Regions from separate parts of the Homo sapiens genome. Here region 2 is linked to region 1. The links come from fine-mapping of genetic effects on gene expression. A gene starts in region 1. The other region holds a variant in brackets. All regions are shown on one strand. Distances are from middle to middle. Region 1 holds the start of SNX19 (sorting nexin 19). Region 2 overlaps SNX19 (sorting nexin 19).

Evidence for each region.
Region 2: its variant is fine-mapped to the expression of SNX19 in prefrontal cortex (ROSMAP, PIP 0.95).

The regions. Positions count from the first base shown.
Region 1 is chr11:130,911,104-130,927,551 of GRCh38, reverse strand. It overlaps SNX19 (sorting nexin 19), which reads left to right and starts at 11,073. Exons shown (of 11, transcript NM_014758.3): 1 at 11,073-13,286; 2 at 15,781-15,919. The coding sequence starts at 11,613. RefSeq lists a silencer at 10,881-11,160 and an enhancer at 11,281-11,330.
Region 2 is chr11:130,888,684-130,905,131 of GRCh38, reverse strand. SNX19 (sorting nexin 19) reads left to right here. Exons shown (of 11, transcript NM_014758.3): 8 at 1,748-1,877. Among named protein-coding and RNA genes, the nearest start is that of SNX19, 20 kb to the left of the region's middle. The variant C/G (reference allele first, on the strand shown) is at 8,927.

The DNA of each region.
Region 1 (16,448 bases):
TTTCATTGGCATATATTTATGTCAAAACTTATCAAAGTGTGCACTTTAAGTATTTGCAATTTATCTTATGTCAATTATACTTCAATAGAGCTGTTAAAATATTTAAATATAAGAAAATAACTGAACCGGGGAAACGCTTCTGATGTTTCCCATTCAGAATAATATTTTGAGGTAAGGAAATGCCTTCCTATAATTGTTACTTGAAATCATGAACGAATATTGAATATTGTCAAACGTTTCTACCACATCTACTGAGACAACGTGTAGATTTTCTCATTTAATGTAGGGGCTGATGATTACAGAGTTTTTTTGTTTTGTGGTTTTTGAGAGAGTCTCTCTCTGTCGCCCAGGCTGGAGCGCAGTGGCGTGATCTCGGCTCACTGCAGCCTCTGCCTCCTGGGTTCAAGCCATTCTCCCACCTCAGCCTCCCAAGCAGTTGGGATTACAGGCACCAGCCACCACACCTGACTAATTTTTATATTTTTGGTTGAGACGGGGTTTCACCATGTTCCCCAGCCTGGTCTCAAACTCCTGAGCTAAAGCCATCTGCCTGCCTCGGCCTCCTAAAGTGCTGGGATTACCGGAGTGAGTCACCATGCCTGGCCAATTACAGAGTTTTTAATGTTAAACCACCCTTGTGTTATCTTTTTTTTTTTTTTTTTTTTTTTTGAGACGGAGTCTCGTTCTGTCTCCCAGGCTGGAGTGCAGTGGCGCGATCTCGGCTCCCTGCAAGCTCCGCCTCCCGGGTTCACGCCATTCTCCTGCCTCGGCCTCCCGAGTAGCTGGGACTACAGGCGCCCGCCACCGCGCCCGGCTAATTTTTTGTATTTTTAGTAGAGACGGGGTTTCACCTAAGTACCCTGCTGGATTTAGTTGGCTAATATTTTGTTTAAGAAATGTTCGCATCTAGCTGGATGTGGTGGCTCACACATGTAATCCCAGCACTTCCGGAGGCTGAGGTGGGAGAATCGTTTGAGGCCAGGAGTTTGAGGCCAGCCTGGACAACATGGCGAGATCCCCTTCATCTCTACAAAAAAATTTAAAAATTAGTCCCTGGACATGGTGGTTTGTGCCTGTAGCCCCAGCTACTGAGGAGGTTGGGGTGGGAGGATCCCTTGAGCCTAGGAGGATGAGGAGGCAGCAGCGAGCTGAGATCGCGCCACCGCAATACAGCCTAGGTGACAGAGTAAGATTCTGTTTCAAAAAAAAAAAGAAAAAAAGAAAAGAAAAGAAAAAAGAAAGAAATGTTTACATTTAAAAGTTGATGAGAGAGGTTAACCCATACATTTTCTTTCTTTCTCTGTCTTGTCTAGTCTTGATTTCAAGGTTACACTATATTCGTGAGTTGCAAAGTATGTACTTTTAAGAAATCTTAAGGAGTTTATATAAGATTATATAAATTTGGAATGACCTATTCTATTTGGAATAGGTTGGGAGAATTGGCCTATAAAATTATCTGGTATTTGCTTTGAGAGAAACCTTAAAATGTTACTTAATTTCTCAATAGGCGTAGATTTATTCAAACATCCTATTTCTTCTTAGATTATTTTGTAATTTATATTTTTCTAAAACTTTTTCCATTTTGTTTTAGAGTTTAAATTTGCCGTCATTAAGTTATTCCTTTAATTCTACTGCATACATAATTATGTCTCCTTTATCAGGCTCCATATTATTTACTATTTATCTCTTTTTCATTCTCAATCAATTTACTTAAATTTTTTTCTTTTTTACTGGTCTTTTAAAACAATAAACTTTTGGCCTTTTGATCTACTTTATATTATTGATGCTTCCTGAATCTACGTTTTCATCCAGTTTTAGAACACTATCTGCCAAAATCTCTATAAATTTTTATCCTCCTCCATTCTCTTTATTATCTTCCTGGAACTCTTGATCATATAAATATTAGAATTTTTATTTTAGCATTCATTTCTCTTCATTTTTCTTTCATATATTCAGTTCCCTAGTTCTCTATGCTATAGCCTAAATAATTTCTTTCAACAAATACTGTAGGTCATTAATTTTTTCTTTGGCTATATATAATCAACTATTTAACACATACATTAAGTATTTTATTTCAGTAGTCCTATTTTTCATTTATAAAAGTTTCATTTGGCTATGTTTTGAAACTGTATGGGCATCTTTGACAATCTGTTATTGTTAGAACATACTTGTATTTCATTCATTTTGAGCTCATACATGGATCTTCTATCTTAAGCAGCAGACAATATTCATATCCACAGTCCTTGTGTTCTCAATCTGTTGTTTATTTTTTCTGATTCTCACTCATGTTAGCCTTCCTTCTCATAATTGATGGTCTTGGATTTAGAGTTCATAGTACTCTATATTAAATGTGTGCTTATTTCATGGTCTTACCATGAGAATATTTTCTTCCAGAATGGATTTCTTTTGTGTCTTCCAGAAGCTTGGAAATGCCACTGACCTGGAACTTCTTCAAACCTCTTCAAGGATTGTGGCTCCAAGTGGAGTCAGGGGCTCAGTTTCACCTCCTCCTGCTGGAACAAGGCTCAGAACCTGAATTACAGATCTGATAAGGACGTCTGTCCCTGGGGCCACCCTGCTCCTTTCATCTGCTCTCCACTGACAGTTCTATCCTCATCTCAGAGTTGTTTTCTGTTTCGTTTTGCTCTTATTTAATAGTTTTGTTTTTAGAGTGGGATGGGATAGTGTACCTTGGACTTCTCACCTATTTTGTGTCCTCATTTGAGCCCATTAACTCATCAATAACTGTTTCCTATTCAGTGTCTGGTTGTTCTGCAGAGGGAAGGGCTATTCGAGCATTTAGTATTGTATGCAGCCAGATGAGGAAGTTAAGCCTGGATCTCCTTAACTTGTAGTTCAGTGCTGTTTCCACTTTTGAATGAAATGAAAAAAAATATTGGGAACTATCAAGATTATTATCTTCCTTTTTAGTATCCTCATAATCAAAATATGACCATTCACATAACCCACAGATAGAAAAGAGGTAGTATGAACTGAACCCTGTCCCTTCAAAACTCATATGTTGAAGCCATAGCCCTCAGTATACCTCAGAATGTGGCTCTATTTGGAGATAGGCATGTAAAGAGGTAATTAGGATTAAATAAGGTCTTATGGGTGAGCCCTAATCGAATATGACTGTATCCCTATAAGAAGAGGAAGAGTCACCAGGGATGCGTGTGCACAGAGGGAAGACGCTGAAGAGGTGGCCTTCTGCTAGGCAAGAAGGGAGGCCTCAGGAGAAACCAAATCTGCCAACACCTTGATCTTAGACTTCCAGCCTCCAGAACTGTGAGAAATAAATTTCTGTTGTTTAAACCACCCAGCATGTAGTAGTTTGTTCTGAGCCGTAGCAAACAAGTATGGGAGCTTACTCAGTATTTCTCATGTCTCCCTTATTCCTAGTACGACCTGTTACTCTTGTCTTTTTTTTTTAACCTTTTTTTATTATTTATTTATTTATTTATTTATGTTTGAGACGGACTCTCACTCTGTCGCTATGCTGGAGTGCAGTGGCACGATCTCAGCTCACTGCAACTTCTGCCTCCCAGGTTCAAGCAATTCTCCTGCCTCAGCTTCCCGAGTAGCTGGGACTACAGGCGCGCCACCACACCCAGCTAATTTTTGTATTTTTAGTAGAGACGGGGTTTCACCATGTTGGCCAGGATGGTCTCGATCTCTTGACTTGGTGATCCACCCGCCTCGGCCTCCCAAAGTGCTGGGATTACAGGCGTGAGCCACCGCGCCGGGCCTGTTACTCTTGTCTTTATGGGAAATTCAACCCACCCTTTAAGGCCAGCTCAAAAGTCATCTCTTCTGTGCAACTGTTCCTAATTTTCTGCCTTCCCATATTTTGACATATTTTGATTATAGCACTTTTTACATTGTGTCAATATCCATCTCTTGCATTAGACTGTGAATTCTTTAAGAAGATAAACTATATAAAGACCATGTTTGAATTCCCAATATCTGGCTTAATCCTCGTGGGGTGAATGGATAGACATGGGACTGACAAATGAATAAGTAAGATGCAGTTTCTCCTTAAGATGCCATACTTTCTGCTGCCCTCTGGTGGCTATTTTGCTCCATCACCGCGCCTAAGGCAGGATGTGGAGATGCTCCTGCCAATATCCTAGTTCTTCATGGATGCTTTTAGATGATTCTTTCCCAAATTACACACAATTTCCTTCTTTTCTTTTGGTATCACCATACTTTCTTTACTCCTTGTATTACTCTGTTCTCATATTGCTATAAAGAACTACCTTAGACTGGGTAATTTAAGAAGAAAAGAGATTTAATTGACTCACAGTTCGGCATGGCTGGGGAGGCCTCAGGGAACTTAAAATCATGGCAGAAGGCAAAGGGGAAGGAAGCATATCTTCATAAGACAGCAGGAGAGAGAGAGTAAAGGGGGAGGCACTACACACTTTTAAACAACCAGATCCCACGAGAACTCTATCACGAAACAGCGCTAGGGTGACGGTGCTAACTCATTAGAAACCACCCCCATGATCCAATCACCTCCCACCAGGCCCCACCTCCAAAACTCAGGATCACAGTGCTACATGAGATTTGGGTGGGGACACAGAGCCAAACCATATCACTCCTCGTATTACATCACCTTCCAACTTCCTGGTCATTCTTCTCACTTACTGAGAACATTTGTACCAAGATCCTAGTCCTCTCTACCCTAACATTAGTGACTTCCTTGACCATGTAGATCATCCTTCTCCAAAACATAGACTCAAAATGTCTCCTTCAACCCTAGCCCTAGGTTATCCAGACCCTATTTCAGAAACTCATCTGGCCACACCCAGACTTTATTACCACAAAAACATTTTCATCTTTAGGCATGTAGCCTCTGTAGTAGGTCACATAATGCCCCCTTCCACCAAAATATGTTCACATCTGGACCCCCAGAACCTGTGGGTATGTTGTTTTACTTGGTAAAAGAAACAAAAGATAAGACTAAGTTAAGGGTCTTGAGATGGGAAGTTTCTCCTAGATAACTGCGGAGGCTCAAAGTAATCACAGGGCCATTTTAAGAAGAAGGCAGACCATCCTGGCCAACATGGTGAAACCCCATCTCTACTAAAAATGCAAAAATTAGCTGGGTGTGGTGGCACACGCCTGTAATCCCAGCTACTTGGGAGGCTGAGGCAGGAGAATCACTTGAACCCAGGAGGTGGAGGTTGCAGTGAGCCGAGATCGCCCCACTGCACTCCAGCCTGGTGACAGAGAGAGACTCCATCAAAAAAAAAAAAAAAAGGCAGGAGGGTCAAGGTGGGAGAAAGAGATGTGACCACAGAAGCAGAGGTTGGAGCATGTGGTGCCATAAGCCAAAGATCACAGGCAGCCTGTAGAAGCTGGAAAGGACAAAAAAGAGATTTTCCCTTAGAGCCTCCAACAGGAACAAGCCCTCTCAATCCATCTTAGACTCCTGACTTTCAGAAATGTAAGAGAATAAACATGTTTGCTGCAAGCTGCTAAGTTGATGGTCATTTGGTAGAGCAGCCATAAGAACAAACACAGGCTCTGATGGACCAATCTTGAGCCACAGGTCTTTTTCTTCTGGCTCTTACTCACTTGCTCCCAGTACAGCTCATCCTCTCCTCACAGCTGTTTGTCTCTCTCCTGGCTTCGTTTTCCTTCCCAGATACCTAGACTCCATGATTTTCCACTGTAACCACTCTCTTCCCAGGATGTGAAGGTCCTAATCTTTTCTCCTTTCACTTCATCTACCTTGATACCTCCTGCTTGCTTCTCTTTTATACCGAGGATACTTGATATGGCTTGGCTGGTTCCCCACCCAAATCTCATCTTGAATTCCCCCATGTTGTGGGAAGGACCCAGTGGGAGGCAATTGAATCATGGAGGTAAGTTTTTTTCCATGCTGTTCTCATGATAGTGAATAAGTCTCACAAGATCTGATGGTTTTATAAAGAAGAGTTCCCCTCCACAAGTTCATTTCTCTTTTTGCCTGCTGCCATCCATGGAAGACATGCTCTTCCTTGCCTTCCACCATGATTGTGAGGCTTCCCCAGCCACACGGAACTGTAAGTCCAATTAAACCTCTTTCTTCTGTAAATTGCCCAGTCTCAGGCATGTCTTTATTAGCAGCATGAAAAGGAACTAATACAGTAAATTGTTACCAGTAGAGTGGGGCTGCAGAAAAGATACCTGAAAATGTGGAAGCAGCTTTGGGACTGGGTAACTGGCAGAGGCTGGAACAGTTTGGAGGGCTCAGAAGAAGGCAGGGAAATGTGGAAAAGTTTGGAACTCCCTAGAGACTTGTAGAAAGGCTTTGGCCAAAATGCTGACAATGATATGGACAATGAAATCCAGACTGAGGTGGTCTCAGATGGAGATGAGGAACTTATTGGGAACTGGAGCAAAGGTGACTCTTGTTAAGTTTTAGTAAAGAGACTGGTGACATTTTGTCCCCGTTCTAGAGATTTTGGAACTTTGAACTTGAGAGAGATGATTTAGGATATCCGGCAGAAAAAAATTTCTAAGTAGCAAAGCGTTCAAGAAGTGATTTGGGTGCTGTTAAAAGCATTCAGTTTTATAAGGGAAGCATAGCATAAAAGTTTGGAAGATGTGCAGCCTGACAATGCAATAGAAAAGAAAATCCCATTTTCTGAGGAGAAATTCAAGCCCGCTGCAGAAATTTGCATAAGAAACGAGCAGCTGAATGTTAATCCCCAAGACAATGTGGAAAATGTCTCCAGGGCATGTCAGAGATCTTTCTTTGCGGCAGCCCATCCCATCACAGGCCTAGAGGTCTAGAAGGAAAATAGAGTTTCATAGGCCGGGTCCAGGGTCCTGGTGCTGTGTGTAGTCTAGGGACTTGGTGCCCTGCATCCCAGCTGCTCCAGCCATGGCTGAAAGGGCCCAACGTAGAGTTTAGGCTGTGGCTTCAGAGGGTGCAAGCCTCAAGGCTTGGCAGCTTCCACATGATGTTGAGCCTGTGGGTGCACAAAAGTCAAGAACTATGGTTTGGAAAACTCCATCTAGATTTCAAAGGATGTATGGAAATGCCTAGATGCCCGGGCAGAAGTTTGCTTCAGCAGCTTGGCCCTCATGAAGAACCTCTGCTGGTCAGTGAGGAAGGGAAATGTGGGGTGAAAGCCCCCACACAGAGTCCCTACTTGGGCACCACCTAGTGGATCTGTGAGAGGAGGGCCACTGTCCTCCAGACTGCAGAATGATAGATTGACCAACAGCTTGCACCATTCACCTTGAAAAGCCAGACACTCAATGCCAGCTCGTGAAAGTAGCTGGGAGAGAGGCTCTACCCTGCAAAGCCACAGGAGTGGAGCTGCCCAAGACCATGGGAACCCACTTTTTGAATCAATTTTGGAGTGTTAAGATTTGACTGCCCCACTGGATTTCGGACTTTCATGGGGCCTGCAGCCCCTTTGTTTTGGCCATTTATCCCATTTGAAATGGCTGTATTTACCCAATACCTGTACCCCCATAGTATCTAGGAAGTAACTAACTTGCTTTCGATTTTGGAAGCTCATGGGCAGAAGGGACTTGCCTTGTCTTGGATGAGACTTTGGACTGTGGAATTCTGAGATAATGCTGAAATGAGTTAAGACTTTGAGGGACTGTTGGGAAGGAATGATTGGTTTTGAAATGTGAGGATATGAAATTTGGGAGGGGCCAGGGGTGGAATGATATGGTTTGGTTCTGTGTCTCCACCCAAATCTCATCGTGAATTGTAACTCCCACAATTCCAATGTGTCATGGGAGGAACCCGGTAGGGGATAATTCAATCATGGGGGCAAGTCTTTCCCATTGTTCTCATGATAGTGAAGAAGTCTCATGAGACTGATGGTTTTATAAAGAAGAGTTCTCCCACACAAGTTCATTTCTCTTTTTGCCTGCTGCCATTCACGGAAGATGTGACTTGCTCCTCCTTGCCTTCTGCCATAATTGTGAGTCTTCTCCAGCCATGTGGAACTGCAAGTCCAATTAAGCCTCTTTCTTTTGTAAATTGCCCAGGCTCCGGTGTGTCTTTATCAGCAGCATGAAAATGGACTAATACAATACTAAACACCTCCAGAGAAAATAACTCAACCATATGTATTGGTGCCACTACAAAAAGGTCCCTCAGCCCCACCTTCTCTCTTTTTTTTTTTTTTTAGACGGAGTCTCGCACTGTTGCCCGGGCTACTGGAGTGCAATGGCACAATCTCGGATCACTGCAATCTCCACCTCCTGGATTCACGCGATTCTCCTGCCTCAGCCCTCCGAGTAGCTGGGATTACAGGAGCACACCATCACACCTGGCTAATTTTTTTGTATTTTTAGTAAAGACGGGGTTTCACTATGTTAGCCATACTGGTCTTGAACTCCTGATCTCGTGATCTGCCTGCCTCAGCTTCCCAAAGTGCTAGGATTACAGGCATGAGCCACTGCGCCCAGCCCCCACTTCATCTTTTTACCTGACCTTCGATAGCTCCCTTTCTATATCCCACAGCAATAATTCCATACCATCGCCTCTTCTCACTCACTTGCCCCATCACTGAGCTTCTCTTTAGGAAGCCTCCTGGTCTTCTATTTTGAGAGAAAATTCAAGTGGGGTGCGGGCTGGCTCTGGCAGGGCCTATGTCACGGGCCCCCCTGCTCTCATGGTCTCTGCCTGTTTCTTATGAGCAGGCCTCTGCCTGAAAGACCTTCCTTCTGTTTGCCCCTTGCTCTCGCTACCCAACATTTCCTAAAATACACTCAATTCTTTTTCATTTCCCAACTTAAGGGAAAACTGTCTATGAGCCACCCCCCTCCACAGCTGACCACCCGCTTTGTGTTTCGATTTTATTGTATGCACTTCTATTACAACACATCAGAACACATCACATTACACACGTGATCATGTTTCATTACGTTTATATATTTATGTGTCTCTCCTTTAACTAGACTGAGAGTCCCTTGAGGAGAATTATTGTATCTTATTTGTCTTGTTTTCTCCAACACTCTAGCACTATGCCTTTAATGTTTTGAGAAATAGGGAAAAGGAAAGAAGGAAGGACGTCTCCAGATGGTGAGTGGTGTGGCCAAGTCTCCCCACCCCACATACACACACCAGGGCACATCAGTCCTGACTCTCACCTCCTCCCAGTGATTAATCTGTTTGGAGACCAGGGTCTGCCCAGACCCCCAGGCAGGAGCTCACACCCGTCCAAATGACAAGTGCACGGGCATGTCCATCAAACCCGCTTCAGAATCAGGAAGGCACTCTTGGCTACCTTGATGCTCCAGACCATCTGGTCAGGTGGCATAGCGCCCACTTGCAAGGTCACTTCCTTACTGCCCTGAACACTCCAGATTATGCTGCCAAGTAAACTTTCTCTTTGAACTGCCACAGGAAGTCTTCAGCACCGTCGGTAGTCCCTTCATCATTCACATTTCTGTTTTAGCTCCCAACTAGGTGGCAGGGACTTTTCTCCAGAGCATTGTTGCCATTTTCTAAGTGCTCCTGAGGACATTAGAATGGTCTGGGAAGGTAGAGGGGCAGAGCCCACTTCTCGGGTTCCTTTTCTGCGGGAAGGCAGGCAGCAGTGAAAAGGTATGGACCGTGAAACCGTGGATTCACATTCTGCCATCTCACGGGAGTGCCCAGTCTGCTTAGTGGACACTGATCCTAAATCAAACCATTTGCTTTAGAAGTGATGAATCGTAAACTACGGGTCACATCTAAATGATGGCTTCTTTCGTATTCAAAGGAAGTCTCTGCCCCAACAGCAGCAATGGACGAGACAGGAAGCTGCAACGCACTTCTTGTTGGCAGAGTTTTGGGTTGGGATTTGTTTGAAGATTCCTTTAAACATCTAGGGAGTAGTCCATGATGATGAAAGACTGCTCACAGCACAGAGAAGGTGGACGAAGGGCAACCATGAGCAGCTCTGTGCAAACGATGCGAATCCTATGCCTAAATGGAAAGGAGACCCACCCTGCGGGCACAGCTCCTAGGGCCCAAGGTGGACATGGAAGCTGGCTTCACGCAAAACTGACACTAACACTTTTGACACCTGGTCAGTGCTTCCGGTATTTTGTCTTCCTATAGGTTCCTGTGTAGACAAGTGAAGTCTAATTTGCTAAAACCAAAAACAATCCAACATAGAGCATATTCCAAAGCAAATATATTACAGGATTATCTGAAAGGACACCTCTATCTCTGCTTTCCTTTTCTATGTTTTTGGGGAGGATAAGGCGAGAAGAGATAGAGGGAAATAGAAACCCTCATCCTTGAAGACTCAGCAGAAAGGCACCTTTTCTGTGAGCTTCTCCTTAACCATTGCAACCCACAGTGATCTCTCCTTCCCCTGAATTCCTATAAGATTTTGTATTTTACTATATCGCACGCTGACTGGCATTACTAGATAGCCAATCGCGTTCAAAGCGCTGGCATCCCCAGTTAGCAGGAGGTCCTGGAGGACAAGGTCTGCTTCTATTCGTCCACGCTGCCTCTCACATTGAAGACAGCAGATGCTCAAAATATTTGATTGTTTGTGTAATGCCACCAGCAAATAACCCTCAATCACAAATTTGATTTTGTGATACAGTATATGAAATGTACAACATAAATCTATCTCTGTATCGTTTCATGCCTTATATTCTGCAATTCCTGACAACAAATGAGGGTCTTTGTGCTGGGGACGCGGGGTACCGGCTCTAGGGGAAACCGGATAAATGTTAAGACACATCAGGCCAATGAAACTTCGCCTCCATGAAATTAAAATAAACCGGATTATTGACAGCGTGCCTAAGCAGTAAAGGACAGGCTTCATTTAATAACCAGAACTAGGACGCGTTTTAAAGCGCCTGGAAGTCTGGGTCTTAGCGGTGATTGCTGCGGCGGCTGTTTCGTGGCACTTCGGAAATCTGCGCCAGCTCTTGGCGAGCACGCGCCCCGTGCGCGCTCAGGCTCACGCTCAGGCTCAGAGACTACCTCGCGCAGGGCCGTCAGGGCGGCTCCTCGCCAGCAGAGGGCGCCGGGCAGCGCCGCTCCTCGGGGCGCGCGCGGACGCTCTCCCAGCATGCCTCGCTCCCGTCGACGTCGACCCGGAAGCTGTCGCCGGCGGCCGGCCGGCGGTCAGCCTTCACACAGGCCCGGCTGCGGAGCGCAGTCGCCCAGGTTTACGGCGGCAGAGGGCCGAGGCTCCCGGAGAGGACCGCGATGAGTCCACTTCAGGTCGGGGCTGAGTGTGGGCGCGCGGTTCCCGGCGGCGTGTGACCCAGTCTTCGCCGGCCGCTGCCCGCTGCGTGTGTAAGTGTCCGTGGGCCCCAGGGCCTTGCAGCGCCCGCCCCGAGGCCCCGAAGAGGCCTTCCGCCTGGGGCAGTGTGAAGGCCACAGAGTTTTCCTCCAAAGCCACACCTCAGCTGGAAGGGGCGAGTTGGAGGGCTCTGTTAGTGGTAGCCATGGGGAGACGCGGAGCTGCAGCTGTCGCTTTGCAGTGCCTGTAGGACTTTGAGGGCCTGGAGCCCCGGTTCCCTGAACAGCACCCAGATCGCCCCATATCTGAGACACAGTTCATGCCCCCCTTCCCTAACTCTGAAGTAAAATCTTGAGGGCTGTCATCTGGGGAAGCCACCTTGTCCGTTCAGCCATGAAGACAGAAACAGTGCCACCGTTCCAGGAAACTCCAGCTGGATCGAGCTGTCACCTCAATAACCTGTTGAGTAGCCGGAAGCTGATGGCTGTGGGGGTCTTGCTTGGCTGGCTCCTGGTCATACACCTTCTGGTCAACGTGTGGCTGCTGTGCCTTCTGTCGGCATTGCTAGTGGTGCTGGGAGGATGGCTGGGCTCCAGCCTCGCTGGAGTGGCTTCAGGTCGACTGCATCTGGAACGCTTCATCCCGTTGGCCACCTGTCCTCCATGCCCTGAGGCAGAAAGGCAGCTGGAACGGGAGATCAACCGCACCATCCAGATGATTATTCGAGATTTTGTGTTATCTTGGTACCGTTCCGTGAGCCAGGAGCCAGCCTTTGAGGAAGAAATGGAGGCAGCCATGAAAGGGTTGGTCCAGGAGCTTCGGAGAAGGATGAGCGTGATGGACAGTCATGCTGTTGCCCAGAGTGTTCTGACTCTCTGCGGTTGTCACCTGCAGAGCTACATTCAGGCAAAGGAGGCCACTGCAGGGAAGAATGGTCCAGTTGAGCCTTCCCACCTCTGGGAGGCTTACTGCCGGGCGACTGCCCCACATCCTGCTGTGCACAGCCCCAGTGCTGAAGTCACCTATACGCGTGGCGTTGTGAATTTGTTGCTTCAAGGGCTGGTGCCCAAGCCCCACTTGGAGACTCGTACCGGACGCCATGTAGTGGTCGAACTCATCACATGCAATGTAATCTTACCACTGATCAGCAGGCTGTCAGATCCTGACTGGATCCACCTTGTACTCGTGGGTATCTTTTCCAAGGCCAGAGATCCAGCACCCTGCCCAGCCAGTGCCCCCGAACAGCCCTCAGTGCCGACATCTCTGCCACTGATTGCTGAGGTAGAGCAGCTTCCAGAAGGGAGAGCTTCTCCAGTAGCAGCCCCAGTATTCCTAAGTTACAGTGAGCCAGAGGGTTCTGCAGGCCCCTCTCCAGAGGTTGAAGAAGGCCACGAAGCTGTAGAGGGAGATTTGGGTGGGATGTGTGAAGAAAGAAAAGTAGGAAACAACTCATCTCATTTCCTACAGCCAAATGTTCGAGGTCCCCTGTTCTTATGTGAAGACTCAGAGCTGGAGTCTCCGCTGTCTGAACTGGGCAAAGAAACCATCATGCTCATGACTCCAGGCAGCTTTCTCTCTGACAGGATTCAGGATGCCCTGTGTGCCCTAGAGAGTTCCCAGGCTCTGGAACCCAAAGATGGTGAGGCATCTGAAGGAGCAGAGGCTGAGGAGGGTCCAGGGACAGAAACAGAGACAGGCCTGCCGGTCTCCACACTGAATTCCTGCCCAGAGATCCATATTGACACAGCAGACAAGGAGATAGAACAAGGAGATGTTACCGCCTCTGTTACAGCTTTGCTGGAGGGGCCAGAAAAGACCTGCCCCTCACGGCCGTCATGCTTAGAGAAGGATCTCACCAATGATGTGAGCTCCCTTGATCCTACTCTGCCACCAGTTCTGCTTTCCTCCTCTCCACCTGGTCCTCTCAGCTCAGCCACCTTCAGCTTTGAGCCCCTAAGCAGTCCCGATGGTCCAGTTATCATCCAGAACCTTCGTATCACTGGCACCATTACAGCCCGAGAGCACAGTGGCACTGGATTCCACCCATACACACTCTATACTGTGAAGGTAACAGGATTAAAGCTGTGGGTGCTCACCCGGGCTAGGAGTGGGTTTGGAAAGCAGTCATGAAGCAAATGTTCTTGGGGGAGAGATGCTGTTAGTTTGAAGTGGTTCTTTCAATAGGCATCTATCTCTGTGAATGGTCTGAAGCTAATATGTAAGGCAGAGTAGCGTTTATCCTGTACTCACACAAGCAATCCTGGAACCTCAGGGCTGCTAGAATGCTGAGGGTTATATTTTCAGTGGTTCCCAAACTTGGCTGCACCTCAAAATCACTTGAGCTGCCTTTCAGATATACAGATTCTGACAGACTCTGTTGGATTCTGTATGAGAATTTCTAAGGAGGGGGTCCCTGGATTCTGTATTTTATTTATTTTCAAATAGAACTCTCCAGATAACATAGAGTCAGCCTGTCCTAAGGCCATCTTGGGGAATTGCCTCTCTAATCCAACCAACCCTCTTCATGTTATCTCTTGTCAAGTTGTTCCCAAGTCTGCTTACACACCTCCAAGAGTCAAAAACTTGCTATCTTCTGAGATAGACATAGGTAAATAACCTACCTTCCTAAAACAAAGTACAAAATGTACCAGTATTTTGAAAAAGAAATCAGCAGGGAAGAAGTTGAGAAAGAAAATTCTTGGACAAGATCCTACCCATTGGATTTTACTTGCCTTCCACACTTGAATTTCTCTCATTTGAGTCCACAAGCTACCACCAGGGACAGCCTGCTTGCTACACTCCTCCGAACTCCCAATCCAACTAAGAGGGAAAAGACCTTCCTTGATCTGCTCAACACAGCTGCATCATGACATAGCATTTTAGAAAGTAACATTATGACATTTTCAAGTAAGACGGAATGGAAGTAATTAGAAATGCATATGGGTGAACACACAGACACACACTCATTATAGGCAAATTGTAGAAGTACAGATGTCTGGTCATAAAATAACTGAGACTAGCCTCAAAGGACTGGTATAACTTTGTTAACATTTTCCTGCCTTTTTGTTCTAATTCTGGATGCCCCTATGCCATGCACCTTTCTCACATTTAAGTGTTGGCTTCTGGTTATTTCATCTTTTTTTAATGACTATTCCAATACTGACATAAAACAGCAGGTTTTTTCCCTCCTCATTAGCAGAAAAATTAAGTTGATGGATAGAATGTTTAAGTTCCCAGTCTTTCTCCCATTATTTGTTCTTTTTTGTTGTTGGCTAGATTTTGACATCTGCTACTGCTTCAATTAAGCATTAGAAAAGAGTAAAGTAAAAAATGAGAACGAAATAATATAGCCAATTATGAGTAGTTTGAAATTGGGTTTAGATTTTTATATGGACATATAACTGATTTTAAATTGTATATCAATATTATTATACTTTCTGATAGTAAATAGTTTTCGGTTTATGTGATGGAAGTAACCATAACGGTGTTGAAAATTGGCCCTCGAGGAGCAGCATATTCCACAGAAAGCCTCATAGTTCCAAATGCTCCAGGCTTGAGAGCCCCACCCTGAATGCCACCTGTTGCTCTTACTTGGTCTTTCCTTCTCAGTGCTGTTCTGAGGGACTGCTTTGCTCACATCAGCTCATAATGAATACCCTGTCTCCAGAAAATTGTAAAGCACCAGCCACAACTCCCACCAACGAGGAGGTAGTTTTTTCCACCTCTTGCCCACAGTATACCTCAACCGAAAAATAATAGCCCATTCCTAATGAGAAGGCGCACATATATACTTCTCCCACAGCGTTTCATTGTGTCTTAACTACCCTGTCAAGAAGTGTGCCCCCATGCTGAGTTGCAGATTCCATGCCATCCGTGGTATTCACTCTTTGGGGAACATGAGATATAAGTCGTCTTTTCCACATACCAGCCCTCTAAGCTTAGGAAGACAGTGGACTTTGACCCCTTATCACATCTCCAATTTTCATGTGACTTCTGTGATACAGATGATACGTACTTAGGAAAAATTCAGTTTAGCTCTAAGAATAACAATTAGGAAAATTAATCTGCGTGAAACAAAACAAATACCCTTTAATTTATTCCAGATAAACAAATGATTTATATCTGCTGTTTGGATTACTTCTTCTTCCCTTAACTAATATAAATAATCACGGGAGAGTATAATGGAAAAATGGTTTGCCCCTTATGATGTTTAGCCCTGTAATTTAAAGGTGATAGAGGCAGTATCATTTTTATGGATGTTATGCCTTCTATTCAAATATTCATTTGAAAAACAGTTATGTAGCCATTTTTATAAGTCAAGAAAGTATCTGGGAGAGGGAGCTTTCAGATGAAAGTAGTAGTGCGGAGGAGTGAAACTCATTTCTGACTTTCTAAGCAATTAGATATAGGAGGTTCTGGAACAGAATAGGAACATACTCCCTCCCTTTGTTCTTAGTTTCGTACTCTTGCTATGTGGCCATTGACCAAGTAGTCAGTAAAGCCAGAATAGAAGATTGCTGAAACCCGGCTGATTGAGTCAATCAATTTGTTCGTTGAACAGTACGAGACAGCCCTTGACGGTGAAAACAGCAGCGGCCTGCAGCAGCTGGCCTACCACACTGTGAATCGTCGCTATCGGGAGTTCTTGAATCTGCAGACCCGTCTGGAGGAGAAACCAGATCTACGAAAGTTCATCAAAAGTCAGGAGTTTCCCCAACCCCTACTGCCCGCTTGCTTCCCACGTCGAGCCACGCTGATTGGCCTGTTGGTTTATGGGAGGGATCGGGGAGGAGAATGCCGTTTCAAGGTTCTCTGCTCCCTGGATTTGCTTCAGGAGTTTTGAAGTTTAGTGCTGGACAGCAGCAATCACATTCTTTCAGAGGTAGTCCTTTACTGCCAACTGCTTTGTTCTGGAGCCCCATCTAGTTTAAGATTAAAAAATAAGTGTTCACATTTCCACCTGTGCCTGTAAGTTGGTGTGAGGAGTTAAATTAACTTTTCCAGATTCATAGATTGGTGGTTCTTAAATATTAAAATATTACACAGAAGTTGTTGCCACCTTCTTTCCTTAACACCCAGATCTTTTGTGTGCTGTTATGACAACTCTCAGGCATGGGGAACCTTTTTTTTTTTTTTTTGACATGGAGTCTCGCTCTGTCCCCCATGCTGGAGTGCAATGGTGCAATCTCGGCTCACTGCAACCTCCGCCTCCCAGGTTCAGGCGATTCT
Region 2 (16,448 bases), 22 kb after region 1:
AGAACTTAAAATAAGTATATCAGTTCCATCAAGATAAAGCCCTCTGTTGAGAATAAAAGATCACAAAATCTTGGATTCAAAACTGGGGAAAAAGCTGATTTCACTATTCTTTCTGAGGTGCCCATGAACAAATCACCTGACATCTCTTCTGAGGGCCTCAATTTAAGTCTGTGAAAAATGGGGTTGACAGCCCCATCCCTTCACACATCTCACAGTTAACTAAATGAAGTGATATGACAGTGAAAGCATCAGAGAACTCTAAGAGACTGTAAAGATGGTGGGGGGCAGGGTCAGTGTGGTAAGAATATCATTCTAGGCAAAGTCCAGCCTGTACATGTTGAACATCATATCTCTAGAGGGATGGTTTAGGCCTGAAACCCTTCTTCTATCTCTGAGAGACTCAAAATGCTCATATGATTATAAAAAACAAAAAAAAATCTACCATTTTCTTTAAGGCAACTGACTTGGTGGTACCTTGTTTGCTTTCTTATTTTTCACTGCTGTAACTAATTGTTACCACATGGTGGCAGCTCCAAGCAAATGCTAAACCTGAGAGAATCATACAATTGAGGACTAAGGCTCAGGATGATGCTGTCTCCCAAGGAATGCAATATTCCATCTTTGAGAAGATGATTAGAAATCACACAACATATCAGCTCCCAATCCTTGCAATACAAACAGAAAAGAAAATATGTATTATATAGGGTTAAGAGGGAAGTATGATTCAGTTCTAGTAGATCTGTCCAAATCGGAAGTCATTCATGTTCAAGGAGAGCTTGGGCAAGGTGATCCAGAGAGTATCCGTTTGTCCTACACTAACAAAGTCATTGTTGATATTACTTATAATATTAATCACAGCAGTGGCACCAGATATCTCAGATCCATTCTGTAACATCACATACTTGGAGGCAAATCAGACGTGACATTGGAACCCCAGGACAGGTTTAAACAGCACGTGCTTCCTTCCACAAAATACATTTGTTCAGGAAACCTTAGTTTAGCATGGGTATAAGCTCATTTGTGGCCCTTACAGTCTTTGAAACAGGAAAGAACGTAGTAATTGTTATGGCATTTTACCAGAGGTGTGGTGTTCTTCCTAGAACCACATGTTATCTCAAAATCAGACTGAAGCCTCCTGAATCCTAACCCCACAGCTCTGTGTAATGGAGGTTTTTCAGGAAAGTGAATGCCAACTCTTTCCCCACTTCTGCCACGGTGTTTCCATAATGCTTTGTGGGGGCGAGTGGAATGCAAGGTTGGAAAGAGAGGAGGCCTTGCCAGTTACACTTAGTCACTAGTTGTGATTTTCTTTGGAACAGAAAGTATTCAGCATCCTGGGGAAATACAGAAGAAATAGAAACTAAGTAGGCAAAATAAGTGCGTGTGTGTGTGTGTGTGTGTGTGTGTGTGTGTGTATGTGTATATATATATATATGTATATATACACACATATATATATTTAGCAGATATATATATAATTAGAAGATATATATCTTTTAAAAACATAGAAACATTTATTAGGTTACAATATCAGGAACATTAATAAAAATTGTAAAGAAATGCTGAGCCTGTCACTGAACCTTCTAGATATGAGTTAAACCTCTTTTGATTTGAGTGTAGAGGGATTGCAAAAATACCAGATGATTGGCATGAAGGTAGAGAGACACAGGTGCCACCAGTACCTTGAAAGATGTTCCTCAAGTATGGGTCTCTTCTGAGTTACTCCTGATGCCATTTTATCCCTCAGGAACAGAGACAGAGTTAGCTGACACAGCCCTGGATCTGCTCCTCTTGCTACTAACAGAACAGTGGAAATGGCTATGTACCGAAAACATGCAAAAGTTTCTTCGTCTTATCTTTGGGACCCTAGTTCAAAGGTAAGACTGCTGAATTCTCCCTCACATCAGAATCTCAAGTTGCAGAGAAGGTGGATGTGATGCTGAATAGTGTCCAGGGAATCTGCAGCCGTAAGAGAAGATAGATTCTCTGTTACAGGGGTTACAGGGATGAAAAATGCCTTGAGAGTATCAGAAAGCTTTTATTGACTACCTTGTTGTCTACAATTTGAAAGTAAGACTGTAAGACTTCTGGCATAATGTACTGAGTTGCAGACACTGTGTGTGATCCTAAAATACTTAGCTGAACTCTTCCTCCTCTCAATTTTCCACCCAGTTATATCCTCCAGCCCTGCACCTCTCACTTGGTTATGGTGGACATTTGTCTCAACTGACATTATGTCATCACTGTGATGATAAACAGTGGGAAAGAAAAGGAGAAAACAGATCAGTGCTCTTGAAATAAAGATTGTTTTCTCTGAGAGGGGCATAAATATTCACAGCTGAAATACTTACTGACACAGGATGGTAAAGAATAGAGGGAAATTTGGATTTGCAAGTTGGCTTTTCTAATCCAGTCTTTGTAATCCTCACACCATTTGATCTCCTGAAAGATTTGTACACAGGTGGAGTTTTTAGCTGCTGACTTTCTAACTATGGAACTGATGTAAGCTTTGTTAACCTGAAGTAGGCCAGAAACACTCTCTCTGAGCCAGGCAGACACACGTAGTGCTTGGGTTTTGGCTACTCTTGTTTTGAACTCCCTCTTATGAGACGTCCTGGCACATCCCAAAGTAAGAGGAAGCCAAATGCTGACCTTCTCTTAGCATGAGGCTCATGCTAACAGGTCACTCAAAAAATACATCCTTATAAAAAAGAATTATGTATCTATTCTTTACCAAGTCGAAAAGTTATTAACAGCAAGCAATTAAATCTCCCTTTTCTAAGTTATGTAGGATCAAGGAGGTTTAATAAAATTGAATCATAAAGAGACCAAGTGAAAGAAGATGATGCACATCTATATTTGCTAAGCGCTTATCTATGCCAGCGCCCAATCTCCATTTACATGTACTTTTTTATAGTGGTCAAGTGAGGTAGGTAGCCCCATTTTACAGAATGAGAAAATAGAGCTTGGCAAAGTCAACTAACATGCCCAAGGTCGTCATTAGTAGCACACTTAGAATTTTAAACCAGATTTGTACAACTTCAAAGCCAATGTGCTTTTTTCATGTATCTTGTAGCCTTAAGACTGATGTCCAAGTGAAACCTACATATAAAATGCTGACTGGTCTTTGTCCCTTTAAGCTTTTCCCCTTGTTCCTACTCAGTATTCAGCCCTGCCACTAGAGTGCCTTTTTCTGAAAAACAAATCTGAACATATATTCTGCACTTAAAATCTTTCAGTAGTATCCTATTACCTACAAAAGTGGTTTTTCCATTATGTTTCCTAGAGTTCTAGGGTTCTGCAGAAGTGCTTCTGAAGCCAACTTAGAAGCTCAGGGAAAACTGAGTGGACCATGACCCAACCACAGAAGTTACACTTTGATCAGTTTAATATACTGGGGCTCTAGGTAACGCTTTGTTTGAAAAGGGGCTCCACTCTGTTTAAAATATGCATTTATTTCTTTATATTAAAATTCCACCTCCTTTCTTACTTGGCATGATCTGGTTTCAGTCTTATTTTTCATTTTCCACCGTGTAAACGTCCATCATTGCCTGAATATTCTGTGGTCTTTTACCCCCAGGCCTTTGCTCATCTTCCTGTATCTGCCTTCGAATGGTCTTTCTCTACCTGTTATTTCCCTGTTCCTTCCATGTGTTCCTAACTTTTCCTCTTCTTGTCTGCTTGGCCTACTGCAAAACATTTTTCATATATTAAGCATAAAATGTCATTTATTCTGTGAAACCTTCTGTAGCATCTGCTCTCTTTCCCCGAGAATTAAGGAGTCCTCTTCTCTAACTTGCAAAGTTTTGATAATAATACTTGTCACAGTGTGTTTATATAAATGATCTGCTTTTCCTACACTAGTGGTTGTCAACTGGGGTACACTTTTGTCCCCCAGGGGACACTTGCCATTATCTGGAGATATTTTTTGTTGTCACAACTGGGAAGGAGATGTGGGATGCCTACTGGCATCTAGTGGATGTAGGCCAAGGATGCTGCTAAACATCCTGCAGCTACACAGGACAGTCCACCATGCCAAACAACGTGAATTATCCTGCCCAAAATATCAGTGTTACCAAGCTTGAGAAATGCTGTGTAGACTATTAGTTCTTTAAGGACCGGAACTAGCTTTGTCTCCCCAGCAGCTTATACAGGGCCTGGACATAGTAGGTACTCATTAAATATTGAATAAAGAAATAAACATTTCCCTTCCCAGTACCTTTACACTTGAAAGTATAGTCTCTTTAGTTTTATTCTGTCACCTCTGGATGTCACTAATTAGGCCTTCATTTCTCTTCTTCTTTTTTTGGACTTCCCTTTGCTAATCTTCTAAGTGGTTTAAAAAAACAAAATGAGAAGATCCCAAAACTAGCTAGTGTGTGATCTAATATGACCCCTTCTCCTTGAGGTCATTTACATGACAGATTGGTTTCAGAACACGAGAAATTATTCAGTATGAGGATAAAAGTATAGATGAGTTAGGAGAAATTCAAAAAAGATTGAGATCCTTATATAAAAGGGGTAGGAAAAAGTTGACCTGAAGTTTGAATAACTCAGAGTGCTCAAGGGTTTGGGCTAGTCCAGATAAAGGAGAAATACCTATATTCTGGGAGTTAGAGAATGATCACAGAAGTACTTTTTCATGTGGCCGGGGCCCTGGGAGATCTAAGGCAGAAAAGTTAAATACGAGCGAAGCAAGCTCCAGCTGCGTGGCAGACATGGAAAAGACAGGGCTCATTTTAGAGTTCAGAGCAGAGGCTGTGAGACTTCTTTCTTTTTCATTTTTCATATATTGAGGATAAAATGTCAATATATGAAATATCAGTGAGATGGGATTTCATTCTGTCGCCCAGGCTGGAGTGCAGTGGCACTGCAATCATAGCTCACTGTAACCTCCTGGGCTCAAGCCATCCTCCCACCTCAGCCTCCCAGGTAGCTAGGACTACAGGCACACACCACCGTGCTTGGCTAATTTTTTAAATTTTTTGGTTGAGATGGGGTCTCACTATGTTGCCCAGGCAAGTTCCTCACCTTTCCATTCCTGTCCCTGACACTCCCCAACTACAACCACAACTCCAGTGAGCTGGGTAAAGTCTGGTGAATGCAGACTAGCAAAACCCAAATGTAGCTCATGCCATAAAGGAAATGAGGGAGAGGGCTTACAGCTGAATTTCCCTAGACTTTCTCCTCTTTTCACATTCTGACTTTTTGTTTTTTGGTTTTGTCTTATTCTGTTTTATGGAAAAGCATCACTATTGTGATGGGAAAAGTGGGAAAACTCTGAATATATTTGGTGAATTTGAATGAAGCCACTGTGAATATTGGGCAAGAACAGCATTTTGCGGCTAGTTACTTTTGAAAAACTTGTTGTAACTATGGCCTGTTATCTTTGGTTCATTGTACATATTTCCAGGTGAAGATGTTTTATACATGTTCAGTTACCTCATATCCCTTCCTGTCAACAAGTTCTTATATCTAAGAATACAACTTTATCCTTAGCCCATTTGGTTTTGTATTAGCTGCAATGAAAATAGGACCACATCTGGTTAGCAGTCTCCTCACCCAAGCTTCCACAGACTAGAATTAAATGAAGAATCTCATACTTCTCTGTTTGAGGCCATTCATGTATCCCTACAAATCATTTTTCCCATCTTTTTAATGACATTTTTGGCCCTCTTCTGAAGTACCTTATAGCTGGTTTCACAGTTTTCCTGAAGCCTCCTTAAGATAGGAAGCTAGAAGTCATGATATCTAAAGAAAGAACCGGTTCTTCCACTAGAGCTTCCAAAGATCTGGCACTGGTGGCCCATGGTCTCATACCTGGAAGCACCCTGTGCATTATAGACATGGAGCTAACACATTTTAGCATTCAGAGTGTAAACGTTGATAATCTCGTCAGCATCAGCACATTTGCTGTCCAGCAAATGTTTATCGAGAGTTGACTTAGTGCAAATACTGTACTGAACACTGTATGCACATGCTGTTCAAAAGCCACAGTTACTTTTGCACCAACTTAATACCATTTAATTCCTCCAAGTCCTGCGAAAGCGGTACTATGACCCTCATTTTAAAGACAAGGAAACTAAGGTTTACAAAGAATGTGGGTTATCTAGTCAAAATCACAGGGTTAATAAATATCACAAGCAGAATTTGAACCCAGGTTTTTCTGATTTATAGCTGTGATGATTGTCTAAATTTCAGGATCAGATCTTTGCCCTGCAATTCAGCAGGATAAAAGCCAACCCAAAAATCTCTGTCTCCAAGTACTGGAGATTATCAGGCAGTTTGTAGAATCCAAACTGCATCTCCGTATCTACACACTTGCAGCTAACCTAAGGGCAGTGCTGCAGTCTAAAGACAGCCCATGTTACTATCCCTGGGACAGTTGCAGGTTTTAATTTTAAAAAGTGGTGTATGCATTGCTGCATGCTTCAGCTTTATTTGCTTTGGTAAGCCAATATGCTGGAAACTTGACATCTCCAGAGCTGCAGCACCTCTCCACTGTACCCCCTGCATCTCCCACAAGAGGCATGATATGAGGTCCCGTTGCCTCCCATCCCCATGACTGCTGCCTAGGAGGCTACATGTTTGTCCTCCCTGAAACCACGGGTAGCTGAGCCATATGCTTTTGCAGGGTACTTGGGTTCTCTTCCTTTAAGTTCCGTGCTTAAAAGAGCAGGATAGTTGGTGTTGGTGCCACACGTGGTACTGCCACTTCTCTAGTTATTTAGAACTCACTGCAGTTTGACCATCAGGGATGCTGTAGTCACCAGATTTGAGTGCATCTCCTCCTTAAAATGTCCTCATGTTCCAACCTCCAGTATTATTATCCCCAAGCAGGCAAGTTTATTCCTCTGCTTCCAACTTTGTATACCCATCTTGCAACTTTAAAAGACCTGTGTACATTACTGCCTTGGACGCCATAGACTTCTGTCAAATTATAAGCACACTCTCTATCCTGCAAAGGAAAAAAAAAAAACAGAGTAAGTTCGACCTCATAACCCCTCCTTCTAAGCCAAAGTTGGAAGAGCTCTGATCTGAGCCAGGCTTATAAATCTCCGTTGATTGTTGATGATGTGGAGAGAAGTGGGAGGGGAGCTGAAGAGAAGTTAGATGCCCAAAAAAGGCATTGTTAAGTCAAAGGGAAGTCTTGCATGCATGTGCGCCTAACCTCATGTGTCAGCTTCTGTGCTGGGAACATCCAATTATGTAACAAGAAGCACTCCTTATTTGGAATGAGAGACAAAGGGAGGGGAAGGGGAGAGCGGGTAGCACTCTGAGCCAAGGAGCAAATCCGGCTTGTGCAAACTCTGCTCATGCCCGAAAACAGAAGAAACTTGAAAATATCTCTGCAAACATCAGAATCAGATTTAGCAAACTGGGCAAGTACTCAGAGTTAGACTGGGTTGGAGGGAAAGAGGAGAGATACACTGTGCTGCATTGATGGTAGGGGGTTTGGGGCAGGAAGATCCAGCCAAGGTAAGGGGTAGGATTGGTGTGGAGTCCTGATGGAAAGTGAAGGAATGAGAAGCTGGACCGGCGCCCTGCCTGGACACCCAGAGCAATGCCACGATAAAAATAGGAACCATGCCAGCAGCAGAATGCGTGAATGCCACGTCCGCGGCGCTGCCCTCCCCATGGCCCCAACGATGGCATCAGACCTGTGTCAAAAGGGCAGCAGACACATTCCTGGCATCTGCGTCAGGATTTCTCAGTTAAAAAGGGAGTGTGTGTGTGTGTGTCTGTGTGTGTGTGTGTAAGATAGAGACAGAGTGTGTGTGTGTGAGTGTTGGGGGCATGTGGGAATGGAATGGCTTGGCAGAAAGCCAGGGGGAAAGGTTCTGGCAGAGGGGAGCGTGAAGTGTGTAAAGTTAGGAAGTATCCAGAGAGGAAGAAGAAAAGAAAGGGTGTGCAGGTTTAAGGAGTCCAACAAGCAGGGCACCCAGGAGAAACTTGATGGCAAGCTCTAGACCTTACACCAGACCTTGGAATCACTTTCTTAGAGAAGATGTCTCTCTCTAAACCATCTCCTAGGAAAGGTCAGGAGAGCTGCGGCAGAGTCTGGGAGCACTGGAGAGTGCTGTGCTGCAAGGCGCAACGTCCACCTCCCCTAAGGACAGTTGGGAAAGGTTGACCATGAACCCTCTTGCTTCCACTGTTCTCTTAGAACGCTCCAGAATCAAGGCGCTTTCTGTGGAACTCTACTTCAAGGGCCTCTTTCTTGGTGGGCATGTCTAACTAGCAGGTGGATAACAGTTCTTTGTGACATTGGTTATTTCTTAAGAGAACCTCCAGGTCTGCCACCAAAAGTGCACGAGTAATTGCAATGGGAAAGGAACTGACGCTTATTACAATATTAATACCAGGAAAGCAGCTATGTACTGTTTATATTAATGTTCAATTCTATGAGATAGACATGTAGTTCTACATTTCATAAGTGAAGAAAATTACATTCAGATAAAATAACGTTCCCAAAATCATAAAAGTCGTAACAACCACACCTTAAGATTCCACTTAAGTCATCCTGGCCTCAGAGCTCATGTGTTTCCCACTGCTCTGCCATGCTTCCCCTCCATGCAAGCTTTCCCACAAAGCAGTGGCCACTAGAACTGGGTTCACCTGAAAGTTCCCTTGCCGTATTCCCATCTAGCCTCTCTTGCTTTCCATCCAGCTGGTCTCAGGGACACACGCATCTGATGGTAGCATATAAATTATTTTTGTCTGCATATTCTGATTTTATTTTTAAAGCACTTCTGAGCCAGAGATTGTCTCTTAGCTATCTCTATTTATATGCTATTCACAATCAGGAAAAGATTATCAACGTTAAGACTCAGAGTTTCTCAGGAAGCATAGATTACAGTTTTTTCCTTTGCTGTGTAACTTTTTCTTCCAGTTCAGCTCTGATGCCTGGCTATGTCTTATACCC[C/G]ATCTCTTCCTATGCACAGCTTTTCTAGAAATACGCATACTTTTGCAAGACCCCCACATACAAAATTAACTCAAGCTCAGTCTTCAGAATTCTCGCTTATTTTCTGGCTCTCCAGTCATTGGCTTGGGCTGTTTTTAGAGGTGCTGAAATTAATTTTTCTCATTGATGGCTTTGCTCAGATTGTACTGTGGCTCCCTGGGAAGGAGTACTGCTTGTCCCAGGCCTCTTCCATTAGGCCATGCCAAAGGGAAGCTCTTGACTTCTATAGACTGGGCCAGGATGGGCCCTAGCAGTTTCCCCTGTCATATGAGTGGTCTGCCTGTCATATTTCTTGGGTATCACTTATTCTACACCCATCTTAGGATGAAGACATCATGGCTTTCCTGTCACATAGTGACAGTCTCTACTGGAATATATCTTTGAGATTGTAGCAGGTGGATGGCAGCTGACAGCCGTGTGCCTGAGCATTGCATTTGCATTTCTGTGTGTGTGTGCTCTTGAAGTCTCATATACTCAAATAGAGGTACAAAATTGCTCATTGTAAAAGTTAACAAAAAACAGAATATCATGAGGTATTTAAACCTCAGAGCCTTTTTTTCCAAGTCAGGTTCTTGGCATCTCTTGCCCATCTGTGACTGCAAACAGGAACCTAAGATTTTGACATTTTGATGACAGCTTTAGAATGTATGTCAGCATCCTGAGGGCAGGGACTGCGTCTTATTTACCATTATATCTTCAACACCCAGCCCCATGCATAGAAGGCACCTAGTAAATTTGTGTCAAATAAATGAACACAGAAGATCACACGTCATTCTACTGGAGGCAGTCCCTCTGCTTATCACTATTAAGAATCTTAGGGTTTCCTCAACAGTGCTGGGGGACCAGAAGCAAAATGGAAACTGAGTCTTTCATTCCCTCCACACAGGGCATACCCAGATCTTCAGTTAATTGGGGAATTCTGATTCCCAGAGCCATGGTACGGCCTAAGCAAAGAGGTTTGGGGGCCCTTCAGGCCATCTCCCATTCTAATGGCTCTCTCCTTTCCAAAGAGTGCAGCGCCCCTCCACAACCTGGGCCTCCCAGTATGAAGCCCCACCGAGCCTGCCCTCTCTGGAAGCATCTCCTGCTGTTGTACTTTCTCCACCTCTTTCCTTCCACATGGAAAGCAAGAACTTGGACTTTGAAGTCAGATCTGAAATCAGATCTTGCTTTGAGGCTATGTGACTTAGAACAAACCACTTAACTTCCTTTGTCTGTTACTGTCGAAATAGAAATCATAGCCTAGTGCATGAAGTTCTTTGGGGGGATAAGAGATAATTTAGAGGTAAATGTTAGAGAGGCTTTATAGAGGAAGGTATAACAGCTAGATCTTGTGAGATAGGTGTCATTTAGACTGGTTTAGGCTAAATAATATTCTAGACACTAAGACATTTTTAAAACAGGAGGAGGGGCATTCTACTTTCAAATAAAAAGCAACCTGGAATATTTTTAGCCAGCTTCTTTCTGAATGTGTGTTGCTTTTATTGTTTCAAATAGGTGACAAAAAGCCTACCAAACTGCTGCTGCATGGCGTGGGCACAGGAATTCTCTCTATGGGCACCAGGTGGCGCTGCAGGTTAAACAATACCATTCACTGTCCTTTGAGGAAGACCTGTTTGTTTTGCAGTTATAGGTCCCCTGCCGTGATGTTGATACAGTATATTGAAGCCATTCCCTGGCTTGCTCTACGGTTTAGAGGCCACTTATCTGCCTACTCCTTAGTGCCAGTGACTTTTAGATAAGCCCTGTTTCTTTGATCTTTCACCCTTCTTCCTTCTGCTCTAATGCGTCTTCAGCATATGCTTGCTTCTCTGAGTGGTGTGGATGACCAGAAGTTGCCCCTTTGAGTGGATCCCACCCGTTAAAAATTCAGTGCTGGAGCTGATTCATTCAGAACAGAGTGAGCAGAACAGAGTCTGTGGTGATGAGACCAGCTAGACATCTGAATTGCAAGAATTTTGTTAATATTCTGTATAAACTACTTGGACCTATATTCAGGGTCTCCTGTGATCCTAAAATCTTATACATTATGTATTCACTAAGATGGAGATTGTCAGTGCTGAATAGCCCCGATGTTAGGAATCTTATCAACCTGTTACATAATCAAGGACATTCCCTATTGCTTTCGGCCATGGATGGAGACCGTTTGGCTCTCCCCCATTAACTTGGTTTTGGAGAAGCAACCATATGTTATTGCTTACTTTTGATCTTTACCTCTGTCCTTGCAGGCTTCTCCAAGTGCCCTTTGGAGAAGTAGAGCTATTTGGTACTGGAGCAGGGAGGGAGTTGGGTAAATTGGTGGGAAATATACTTTAGCTCTAATATAATGCTGGCCCCGAAAGATTTCTCGGAGAGGATTCAGCCTTCCTGGGAGGGAGGCTGGTGTGCAAATGCAGCATCAAGGTAAGTTCCTCAACACCTGCCTCCTCTCTCCCCCAGGTTTCCTTTTTGTTGTTTTTCCAGTTTTATTTATTACTCCTCTGTGTTTTCTACCCATAGTCAGTGCTCCCAAAGTTCCTATTCTGTGGAGATTCTGGAGTTGCCACTTCGGTGTCCCTACGTCCTTCATAACGGGATAGATGGCCTTCTACTTGGAAAGGTTTTACATTTCAGCCTGTAGACAGGGAACTGGAAATACTTTTGGGTAGCTCTTCTACACCAAGGTGATGGTGTTAATGATAGTCACTTTTCCTTCTCCTCTACACCCCTCTCAGTGTTTTTTCTCTTTGTTTATCTTGGGCATCTGCTTCTCATATATGTATTCTTTATTCTCCTCAAGGCTGGTCTTTTCCAGCCTCCTGTAGCCATTTTCACAGCATAATTTGAAGTCCTCCCATGTCTGCTGATTTAAATAAATCCCTAATAATTTTCTTCCAAATCATGGCTGAGCACACTCTAAATCTGTTATCCGTAATATTTGCAGAAATTTGGAGGTCAGCCCCTTCTGCGAGCACATAATTACTTATCACTTCTGCCTCCTGCAACCCTTCCCTTCCCATCCTCCTTTCCTGTGGTGGGAGTTCTATGTGCAGAGCAGAACAGGGAGATCTCCCTGTGAGGTAAAGCCCCCATGAACAATAGGGACTCTGGTCGTCAAGACAACCACTAAATTACTGCCTTCTTCCCTCTTTTGTGTCTTGCCTTTCTTCCTGGTGCTTCAGCACTAAGGGTTTTGCTCCCTCTCCCTGCCCTTTCCCCTCCACGGACTCAATTTTCTTCTGAATGGGTGGCCATTTTAATTACCTTCCCCCTTCCCCACCCCACCTCTCTGCCCTTGCCCTTGCTGCTGAGAAAGGCAGGCTCAGGATAACTACCTGGGGACTGAGAATGAGCCAGGCTTGCTGTTCACACGGGGACAAGGAAAGAAGAGACAGAGACATTTGGATCCTATAGTCTCTGCAGTGAAAGTTTTATTGGTTGGTACATGGAGGTCTGGTTTTAGGAAGGATTCGGAAATAGAGTTTTCATATTATCCAAAACCCCCTGAGGCCTCGTCCCAATTTTCTTAACTGCTCAGTACCAAATGCTTTACTGGTTTCAGTATTTACTTCCCTGAGCCTGCCAGGAAGAGTAAGCTTTACAAGTGAGAAAACTGAGGCATGAAATGCAAAGCTTACTCCAGATCCTGCCATCATTAGTTCGCTGAACCTGGTTGAATTTTTACAGAAGGTCTGAAGTAGTCTTTTTCTCTTTTACATGTGCAAACACACAAGCACTTTTAGAAATACTTTTTATTTTTCTTATTTCATCTTGATGATAACTTTGTGAAAAAGGCAAGGCAAGAATTTGCCCATTTTATAATGAAGGAAGCCAGAGCTCAGAGAGTTTGTTCAACTTTTATGTGGTTAAGCCAGGTTCAAACCTGTCTGTCGCTTTTCAGTGTCATTTTTAAAGTCTGTCAGTCCTGATTTTCTCAGAACTGGATTATAGTATGTCGGTAGCAACATAGTATGGGGCCAAAAAAAGGTTGACTTGAAAGACTTCAGAGGCACACTAGATTTGTGCATAGAAAACTTTCAGATTGGCCGGGCGCAGTGGCTCATGCCTGTAATCCCAGCACTTTGGGAGGCCAAGGTGGGTGGATCATTTGAGGTCAGGAGTTTCAGACCAGCCTGATCAACATGGTGAAACCCCGTCTTTACTGAAAATACAAAAAAAATTTGCCGGGCATCGTGGCGCATGCCCTTAGTCCCAGGTACTCGGGAGGCTGAGGCAAGAGAATCACTTGAACCCAGGAGGTGGAGGTTTCAGTGAGCCGAGATTGCACCACTGCACTCCAGCCTGGGCGACAGAATGAGACTGTCTCAAAAAAAAAAAAAAGAAAAAACTTTCAGAATGAAATCTTAAACATGTCACAATACTCAAATATAGAAATTGTTAGAGCTTTCCCTTTACAATCAGTCTTATTTATCCTAAAAATACACAGACCCCAAGTGTCTTTTTCTCTTTCTACATTTGTTAGAAAGGTAACCTGACCTTTGCTTTTGGTCTTTCCTCCCCCATTCTGCTACCTTCCTCTCTTCTTTTCTTCTTACTAGTTTCAAATAATGGGTTGGAATCAATTCAATGCTGCTCCATCCGTCAGAGGCACTTCCCAAAATACAAGTGTGACTCATAGTCCTCATAACCCCCCTTTGCTTTTTGTTTGACTTTCAATCTCTTCTATCCTCTGGGCCTATTTCCCAGGAAAATTGACCAAACATAAGCTACTGGCAGCTGTCTCTCTCCTCCAGGATTTATAGTGTGAGATAAGGAGCATGGCTGACCCACTCCCTTGCCTTCCAGCTCTCTTCCCTTCCAGAGGAATGCATAGCCAGGTGTGAATGCCCATTTCATGGATTATTCTTAGTTCTAGACCACCTGACTTATTACCTAGCATACCCGTTACAACATCAGCTCTATCGCTGGTGTATTAGCCCACAGTTTCATTTTATTATTAGCCTAAACAAAAGATTATTAGGAAAGTAAATCTGTCAGACGTGTATATAAACATATATGGAATGCCAAATATAAAGGATTTTTATATTGTCCATGATTTTTTAAAATCTATAATTGTCTTCCTCTGTAAGCATGAATAATTAAGAGCTCAATGTTTTTGCTGTTGTAAGTATTGGGATGTATGCTTTCTGCAGAACCTATTTTGAACTGTGTGCCATGCTTTAAGACCAGTGTTTGTCCCATATACAGCATGAATTCACTTAGTAACCAATATTTATTGATTGCTTTCTCTGTGGTAGGCACTTCGTTAAGTGATCAAAATACAAAAAAAAAAAAAAGACCCAAATCCCTACCATAGGAAGTGTGATATCCAATTGGAGGTGCAAACTTATAAATAGGAGTTGTAGTATAAAATCAGTGCTTTGAAAAGAACTCTATATGTGATTCAGAGAAGGGATTTATCAATTATGAGAGGTGCAGGGAAGGCTTATAGTAGATGACATCAGAGATGAGATTTAAAGAATGTGGGGCGTTGCCAGCGGACAGTGAGAGAGAGAGAGAACATTCAAGGCAGAGCAGTAAAACAATATAGTGTATTTGTGGTACTCAAAGAAGTTAGTATGATTGATTAGGAATATATGATATGCAAGAATAATGGCTGATGATAACAGTGAAGAGTTTAAAGGGAGTCTGCTCATTCAGACTCCTGTGAGTCATTCCAAGAACAAAACATTTGTCACTCATTTGATAGGAAACAATTTTACAAAACATAAACAGATGATGACATGAGCAAATTTGCAATTGAGAAAAATCATTTAAATAGTGCTGTGGAGGATTAATTAATTGAAGGGGCCAAAGTTAGAAACAGGAAGACAAATTAGGGAGGAGTTTCATTGATAGAAAAGGTGATGAGGCATTCAGCTGAGATCATTGCTATAGAGATGGTAAAGGGGTAATAGATTCATGAGATATTGAGGAGGTAGGATCACCTATATTTAGTGACTATTTAAATGATTATGTGGTGTTGGATTAGGGTTGAGAAAAAGACAAATCAAGAATGACTCACACAGTTTTCCACCTTGCAGATTGAGAAGCATAACTAAAAAGATGGGGTAATATCTTTCTGAACAGCATATTGGGGTTGTGGTTAAAATCCTGTTGCTTACTAAAGTAATAGATTAGTATCTACTCTGATTTATATAAAAATCAATGATGCACCCAGAGAAGCCTGTACTGTATCTCTAATAATTTTGAGATTCTTTTTAGTAGAAAACTTAAGGCCCAGATTATATTTTCAACTTTTTTTCTATCTGTAAGTTTCTTTAGAAGAAAAATGAAAACAGAGAATGAATAGCTAACCTTGTAGCTGGTACCAAGGCAAGGTTTTTAAATTTTCTGTGCCATGACGTATGATTATTCACATGGTGAACTTCTGACCACAGACAGAATACAACTCAAAAATAGTAGAAAGAATGTGTTTGTCAGCAGACCATCAACCCAGTGAAGAGTAAGACATTGACAAAAAAATTCAGATAAAGTTAAAACTGGATATTGAGAAAAACAGCTGACACAGAAAGGAAAGCAGAGATAGATGAGAGTACTGGAATTCACAGGAGCGTAACAGAATGAGATAAAAACTGTTTTACATGCTGTAAGAACAGATTAACTTAAAATTCACGCCTGAAGGTATCACTCAAAGTTTTGCAACAGGATCGATTCATTCAGTAAATATTTGATTGTTTATTTGTGAATGACACTATTAAATGCTAAAGGAGATGTCAAAATGAATTACATAAGATTTCTGCCTTCAAAACCTTAAGAGTCTTTTTCTGGGGGGTCGGGGGGCATTTACAAGAAGCTCAACCAATGCTTTGAGTAAATGAATGAACAAATTAAACACCCATTTCCAATGAGGAAGAAAAAGAGTCAGCATCAAATGAAACCAGGGTAGTTAACTGCGATCAGATTCTAGGTGAACATATTTTAAAAACAGAAAGAGGGGACACATACTGAACAATGCAAAAATAGTAGTAATAGAACTAGTAAGAACAGGGTCCAGTAAGCTTCAACTCAGAAGGAGCTGAGGTTGTAGATAAATATTAAGGGAAAAGACTTAGGTGAAAAACACATACACGTGTCACATGTTACTAACAAGAAAAAATATATGTAGGTAATTGTTTGGGACAGATGCTGTAGTATCAACTGATTACATGGTGAAAGCATTTATTCATTCATTCAGCAGTGAATGAATGGGTCTATTATTTGCTAGGCTGTTTTCTATTTTCTTTGTCAAGGAAAATGGCCTAGCAAGAAGAATTGAACAGACATGATTAAAGTAGAATTGGCGACCAAAATAGAAATGAAAATAATAATAGAGCACGTAACCTATTTTAAAGTTTGTACATTTAAACCTGTACATGGCCTAGATGAATTATATCCCATGAAACTTAACAAATTTATATTTAACATTAAAGACCTAAGGTCATTAAGAAACATTGCCATTTGTCCATATGGGTTAGAGATGCACAGATATCTTGCCTTTTTA